2 linked regions of the Homo sapiens genome follow. The protein of the gene in region 1 purifies or fractionates together with the protein of each later gene. This does not show direct contact. Each region holds a gene or a part of one and is shown on either strand. Other genes may lie near its edges.

Region 1 (3,383 bases):
GCTGGAGGTGCTTAGAATAAAACACTGGTGGTGGGGCTTCTCATTCTGGTTAATTTCCTCAACGCCTTTGGAGACAGGTCCAAAATGCAGCTTTGGGAAGCAACTCCGGAGAGTCCCCTGGGAAGAAGAGTATGTCCGAGGACTCAGTCACTTGAGACAGAGTCTGGAGCTGGACTCCTTGAACTGTGTTTCTGAGCTGCAGACACCAAATACCTCCTGGATACAGGTGCCTGGCATGGCTTTTCTCATCTAATACTGACACGTCCCTGTGGCCACAGAGTGTCATAGCCCCATTTACAAATGACATAGCTGAGGCCCAGATGGGGAAAGTAACTTGCCCAGCATCACACAGCTAATCAGTGGCAGAGTTAAGATCTGAACCTGGCTCCGTCTGGCTCCAGAAACTCTGTTCTTCTATTTGGAATTTATCTGTGGAGATTATTCTAGTATATTGATAGCCTACATTTATTTAGCACTTTTTATATTATGCACTTTACATATGTTTTCTCATTTAATCATTACAGCAACCCTGAGTTAGGTATGGTTATAACTTCCCTTTTACATAGGAGGAATCTGAGGCTTAGAGAGGTTAAGTAACTTGCCCAAAGGTACCCAGCTAGTCTCTGCCGGAGCTTGGATTTGAACTTCAGTTTGCCTGGCTCAAATGAGGCTGCAGAGTTGGGAAGGACTTAAAAAGTTTGGAGATTTTTGCCATAAATATTGATTTTTCTGCAAATGAGGATGAACATCTTAATGGCCTTTAAGAAACTTTGCAAATAGTTTTCAAAAATGATGCAACATGGCAGAGAAAATGCACTTGGCTTCCAGCTCCCTCAACAGCCATTAACAGCCTCCTACCGTGGCTCCCACCTCCTATGTCTCCAGAGATCAAGGCAATGGGGAGGGAAAGCTGGCAGGAGGCAGTCCCTTGTGGGCCTGAGGCCCTTTGGCTCCTAAGTGTCCACATTCTGTTCTCTTCCAAGTCCCTTCATTGTTAAGCTGATTCTCCAACAAGATGCAATGAACAGATGCAATGTCTACCCCGCGCTGGGCGAGTTCCCGAGGCCATGGGCTGTTTGGAATCACACTTCATTAAGAGACAAACTGTTCCTTCCCTTATTGTGCCTTAATGCTTATGACAAGGCAGCTCTGAATTGATCCCAAGCTGGAGCCTCTGAATGCTTTAAAGAGTTTGAATATAGACGGTTTGAGAGCAAAAAGGGAGCTTTAAATATTGCTCAGTGGCCCCCATCTCCCCTCTTCCCACATTTACTGAGGCACGAGATGGGATGGGACCTGTCCCGGGTCACAGCAGCAGTCGTCAGCGCCTTGGCCCTCCTGGCTTGTAGGATGCTGCTTTTCCTGGGCTTCTGGCAGTCCAGGCCAGGATGGGGGAGCCAGGAATTCATGTTGTCATTGGAAAAGCTGATAAACAGGAGCACAATTCAAACCGGCTGTTTTCCTCCTTAGAGTCTGGCCTCCCTCTTTCTGGCTGCTCTGTGGGTCTTCCTGTTCTGACTTAGGTTCCTGTCAAGTACTTAAATGCAGCCTTAACATCCCATACAGTCTTGTCCCCACAGCTTCATGTGAACATCTCCATGGGTCATGCATATATCGTCCCTGCAGTGTGCAAAGTGTGCTCACCTGCACTGCTGCACAGGCAACCAACATACTTAGTGCCCAGAGCCTTCTCTCTGGGCCCAGGACTCAGTGATGGGGCCTTACTTAGCCCTGCCTCCTGGGTGGGGTGGGGGAGCTGAGGGATCGTGAGGACAAGAGGTAGAGGGAAAAGAAAAGAAGATGGTGTTTGAGGATAGGGGAGGGACAGGAGAGGGGACAGAAAGGTCCCAGAGCATGATGATGAAGGAAAGGGATCTGGCATTCATGAAGCACCTACGATGGTTCAGGCACAAACACTGAAACCTCAAATTGGCCCTGGCAGAAGGGGACCATCATAGCAAGGTGGGGGGGGGGTGCAGAAAGTGAGTTTCTGTTTCAAGAACAGACTTCACTAGTTCAGAGTTGCACAGCTAGTGAGGTATGGAGCTGGGCTTTGAATCAGGTCAGCTGCCTGAATGCCCAACTTCTTCAGCCCTTGGAAGGAGAGGGTGGGGAGAAGAAGAAGGAAAAGACAAGGAAGAAAGAAAGAAGAGAGAAGGGGAGAGGAATGGAAGTCCAAAGAGTGGGAGGAATTTGATTTCAGAACCATCTCCAGCTGACCCTTGAGCCAGCAAGGACAGGGAGAAGGGAAGAGCAAGAACACGAAGGGCCTCAAGCACCGGGATGCCTTTGCCAGCCTTAGATAATTCCCAGAGCGCACAGAGCCCTGCAGGTTCCTGGGTCCTTCTCCAGAGAAGAGGCACAGAGATTCTGGCAGCAAGGTTCAGAAGGGGTGAGGAAACTGGGCACTGACAAAGGGAGGGGATTGGCTCAAATTCGACCCCAGAGTCAGCTCTGGTGGGGTTGGGAGCCTGGATGGGTGGGAGAAGATAGAATCCAATCGTGAAAACCATAAGGGACCTTCAAACTCATCTTGCCCAGATGTCTCCCATTTCACAGATGAGGGAACTGAGGTTTTGAGAGCTTCCCCTGAGGACTCTGCAAAACGAGGTGGTGTCTGGTTTGGATGAAAGTGGTCGGTGATTCCTCAACTCCTGCCCTGCCTCCCTCTCTCGTTCCTCCCTAACATGTTATGCTCTTGTTGGGGCTGGGATGCCCTAGGCCCAAGGTTACCAAATCCTGGGTTTGGAAAATTGCTGCTGGGGGTGGTATCTAGGACCAGAGAGGAATCTACTATTTCTACTGTGAAATAATTCAGCAGGGGGTCTTCTTACTTCTTCCCTTTGAGGACAAAGTTTCTCTCGAATAAAGAGACTGAAGCAAGAGTGTGTGGCTCAGTTCTGGGGGTTCCTGCCATCACCTCCCTTTTGCCTTCCTCACTTACTTCACAGAACAGCAGCTGAGGCTCAGAGAGGTGAGGCGGCCAGTGCAAAGTCACAGAGCTATGTTGTGGGCAGCAGGAGAAGCCCTGAAGTCCCCAACCTGCCATTCTCAAACCTTCGAGCTCCAAGAAATTTGCATTTTGAAAAAAATTCTTTTCACTTATTTTGCTTTTCTAGCAACTGAGGATGTGAAAGAGGTAGTTACTCACCCAAGATAATATAGTAAACCCTAGCAGATAAGGGACATAAAGCCAGGCCTCCTCATGGTCAGGTCTATACTCTTTGGCACTGCATCAGGTGGCCCAAGGACAGATGCTCCTGTGACACATTCATCCATTCACCTTTTCACCAACCCATTCACCCTAACATCCACCCACCTATCCACCCACCCATTCACTCCAAGATCTACCCATCCACCCATTCACCCCAAGATTCACCCAC
Region 2 (3,500 bases), on another chromosome or scaffold:
ATGCAAAGGACTCTCTGAGTTCCACAAATCTGAAATTCTCCCTTAAAACCCCAGTAGCCCGACTATAGCTGAATAGAGGGTATTTTCATTTGAATATCCAGATAACATCTCATCCTTGTCTAATTTCTAGGTTATCTAATAAGAGTGTCACCATTTTCTTGGTGGTCCTTAAAAACTTCCTCTTACCCAACTGGGACTTCTCTCTTCCTCATCTTTCATAGCCAGTCCATCAAACCCTTGTCCAGTCTTTCTTCCTACCACCACTTACTTAGCTGTCTTTTTTTTCCTTTTTGTATTTTTGTTTTATTTTTAATTTTTGTGGGTACACAGTAGGTATATATATTTATGGGTTATATGAGAGATTTTGATACAGGCATGCAATGTGTACTAATCCCATCAGGGTAAGGCTGGGCACAGTGGCTCACACCTGTAATCCCAGCACTCCAGGAGGCCGAGGCGGGAGGATTGCCTGAGGTTGAGTTCAAGACCAACCTGACCAACATGGAGAAATCCCATTGCTACTAAAAATACAAAATTAGCCAGGCGTGGTGGCGCATGCCTGTAATCCCACCTACTCAGGAGGCTGAGGCAGGAGAATCGCTTGGACCCGGGAGACGGAGGTTGCAATGAGCCAAGATTGCGGTATCACACTCCAGCCTGGGCAACAAGAGCAAACCTCCGTCTCAAAAAAAAAAAAAAAAAATCACATCAGGGTAAACGGGGTATCCATTACCTCAAGCATTTATCCTTTGTGTTACAAACGATCCAGTTATACTTTTTTAGTTTATTATTATTATTATTTTTAGACGTAATCTCGCTCTGTTGCCCAGGCTGGAGTGTAGTGGCAAGATCTCGGCTCAGCGCAACCTCCTCCTCCTGGATTCAAGCAATTCTCCTGCCTCAGGCTGCGGAGTAGCTGGGATTACAGGTGCCCAACACCACCATGCCCAGCTAATTTTTGTATTTTTAGTAGAGATGGGGTCTCCCCGTGTTGGCCAAGATGGTCCTGAACTCCTGACCTCAGGTGATCCTCCCACCTCGGCCTCCCAAAGTGCTGGGATTACAGAAGTGAGCCACTGCGCTCATCTCTAAAACACACAGGAATAATTTAAAACAGGACTATATAAGGCTTCCAGTGTCTGACAGCCAATCTTTCATATTAATTCTTACTTCCAGTGCGTTATAACTAGAAGACTGATACAACTTTACCATAATAGACCATTCAGCATACTGGAGAATGAGCATCACACCTAAATTACTTATTGCCAAGAAAGATCAGCACAATTTGGATAAAAGTAGCTGAGAGCTGTGGTATGATTCCCCAAAGACCATGAGTGGGATGGTCGCTGAGGCACATATATTAATGCTTATAACAGGCAGGGGAACTCTACAGCTGTATACTACTAGGGCAGGAAAAAAATATCAAAGACAGTTTTTGGTATTTTTTTGATATCAAAAAAAAAAAAAAGACACACACAGTAAAAAGTGTTGGCAAGGATGTAGAGAAAATGGAACCCCCAATACACAGTTGATGGGAATGTCAAATAGTGCAGCTGTGGCTGGGCACACTGGCTCACACCTGTAATCCCAACACGTTGGGTGGCTGAGGTGGGAGGATCGCTTGAGCCCAGGAGGTCGAGGCTGTAGTAAGCAAACATCACGCCACTGCACTCCAACCTAGGCAACAGAGTGAGACTCTATCTCGAAAAAAAAAAAAGTGCAGCTGCTTCTGAAAACACTCAGGCAGTCCCTCAAAAGGTTAAATATAGAGTTACTATATGACTCAGTGATTCCACTCCTAGGTATTTTGCCTCTTTGTCCTGTGGACTACTGTACTTCATCTCCAACAGCATAAAGTATAGTGGTCTGAAAATAGCAAATAATCTATCTGTTGATTTTTTAAACCTTTTTAAATAGAAGGTAAACTTGTGACCAGCAGACAGCCAACCTGTCACTGCAGTTACCAGGGCAATAAATATACATGATCTTTGTCTTTATTTTATAATTATATTTAAAAAAGAATCTCCAGTGTTTCTGTTTGTTTTTTTGAGGCTGGGTCTCGCTCTGTTTCCCGGCTGGAGTGCAGTGGTGCAATCTCGGCTCACTGCAACCTCCGCCTCCCAGATTCAAGTGATTCTCCTGCCTCAGCCTCCCAAGTAGCTGGGACTACAAGCGCATGCCACCACGCCCAGCTAATTTTTGTATTTTTAGTAGAGATGCAGTTTCTCCACGTTAGCCAGGGCTGGTCTCGAACTCCTGACCTCAGGTAATCCACCCACCTCAGCCTCTTAAAGTGCTGGGATTATAGGCATGGGCCACCACGCCCGGCCTAAAAAAAGAATCTTTGGACTTGACTTCATAGAACCTTTTACCACTATCTACAAAGAAGCCATGCCAAAGCTGGCTCTTCTAGCAGGTTTTCATTTCTAGTAGAGATGACTGACAGTATGGTCTGGTATAACATTAAGATCCTCATTCTCAAAGATTCGAGTCCCCATTCTCACTCCCAAAGTTGTGTTTCACTTAAGTGAAACTACAGGTAGACTTAGCTGTGCTAAAAGTCTGTCTGGGACTAGCCCGCAGCAGAAGTGCAAGTAATCTGTGTTCCCAGCTCAGAGCTCACTTTAGGGCGTTGGTCTATGGAACTGATCATGGGAGAGTACTACTAAGCTTGAAAGAGGCCAGGTGCGGTGGTGTGCACCTGCAGTCCCAACTGCCCAGGAGGCTGAGGTGGGAAGATCGCTTCAGCCCAGGAGTTCAAGGCTGTAGTGCACTATATCACACCTGTGAATAGCCATTGCATTCCAGCCTGAGCAACACAGCAAGACTTCATCTCTTAAAAAAAAAAAAAAAATTCAGAACCCATGTTCAGTATATTAAAAAATGAAAAAGAAAACAAAAAATTCGACCCCAGGGTACCCACCCTCTAGAAAAGAGACACAGATATTTTAAAGCTTTTCCCTCACTCAGATTCTAGTTTCATGACCTTTATAAAATCATTCCCCCATATCCACTCCTTCCCTCACCTCTACTGCTGCCATTATCTTTTCATGTGCATCCCATCTTCCTCCAAACCCTACTTTATTTTTTTCTGTTCTTTTTATTCTAACTGCACTTTACAACATCATACTTAAAAAACAGCCAATGAATGGTCCTGTCCCAAAAAACTAGACATAAATAAAAATGAAATAAAACCTAAAAATGTAGTAGAGCAGCAACCCACTAATATAACAATTACAGGCTTGTCAAGATTATCCCAGCGGTCTTCACAAGAAAGTATGCTATGTCTAATAACCCAACTATAAAATTATATACTTCAGGGTTTCCATTGAGCTCATTTTGAACAAACTTCCTAAATTTATTAAATAAAAAATTTTGATTAGTTACCTAATTTGCAGCTTTTTTTTTTTTTTTCTTGAGACGGAGTCTCGCTCTGTCGCCCAGGCTGGTTGCAGTGGCGTGACCTCAGCTCACTTCAAGCTCCGCCTCCCGGCTTCACG

What was found. The genes of interacting proteins can lie anywhere in the genome.
Region 2: the proteins of CMKLR1 (region 1) and CNIH4 purify together in Homo sapiens (affinity purification with mass spectrometry; one large-scale study listed by BioGRID and IntAct). This does not show direct contact.

What each region holds. Positions count from the first base shown.
Region 1 is NC_000012.12:108,287,546-108,290,928, reverse strand, and holds the end of CMKLR1 (chemerin-like receptor 1), read left to right. Parts: 3' UTR 1-2,883; downstream 2,884-3,383. UniProt on the Homo sapiens protein: Receptor for the chemoattractant adipokine chemerin/RARRES2 and for the omega-3 fatty acid derived molecule resolvin E1.
Region 2 is NC_000001.11:224,366,879-224,370,378, reverse strand, and holds part of CNIH4 (protein cornichon homolog 4), read right to left. Parts: intron 1-3,500. UniProt on the Homo sapiens protein: Involved in G protein-coupled receptors (GPCRs) trafficking from the endoplasmic reticulum to the cell surface; it promotes the exit of GPCRs from the early secretory pathway, likely through interaction with the COPII machinery.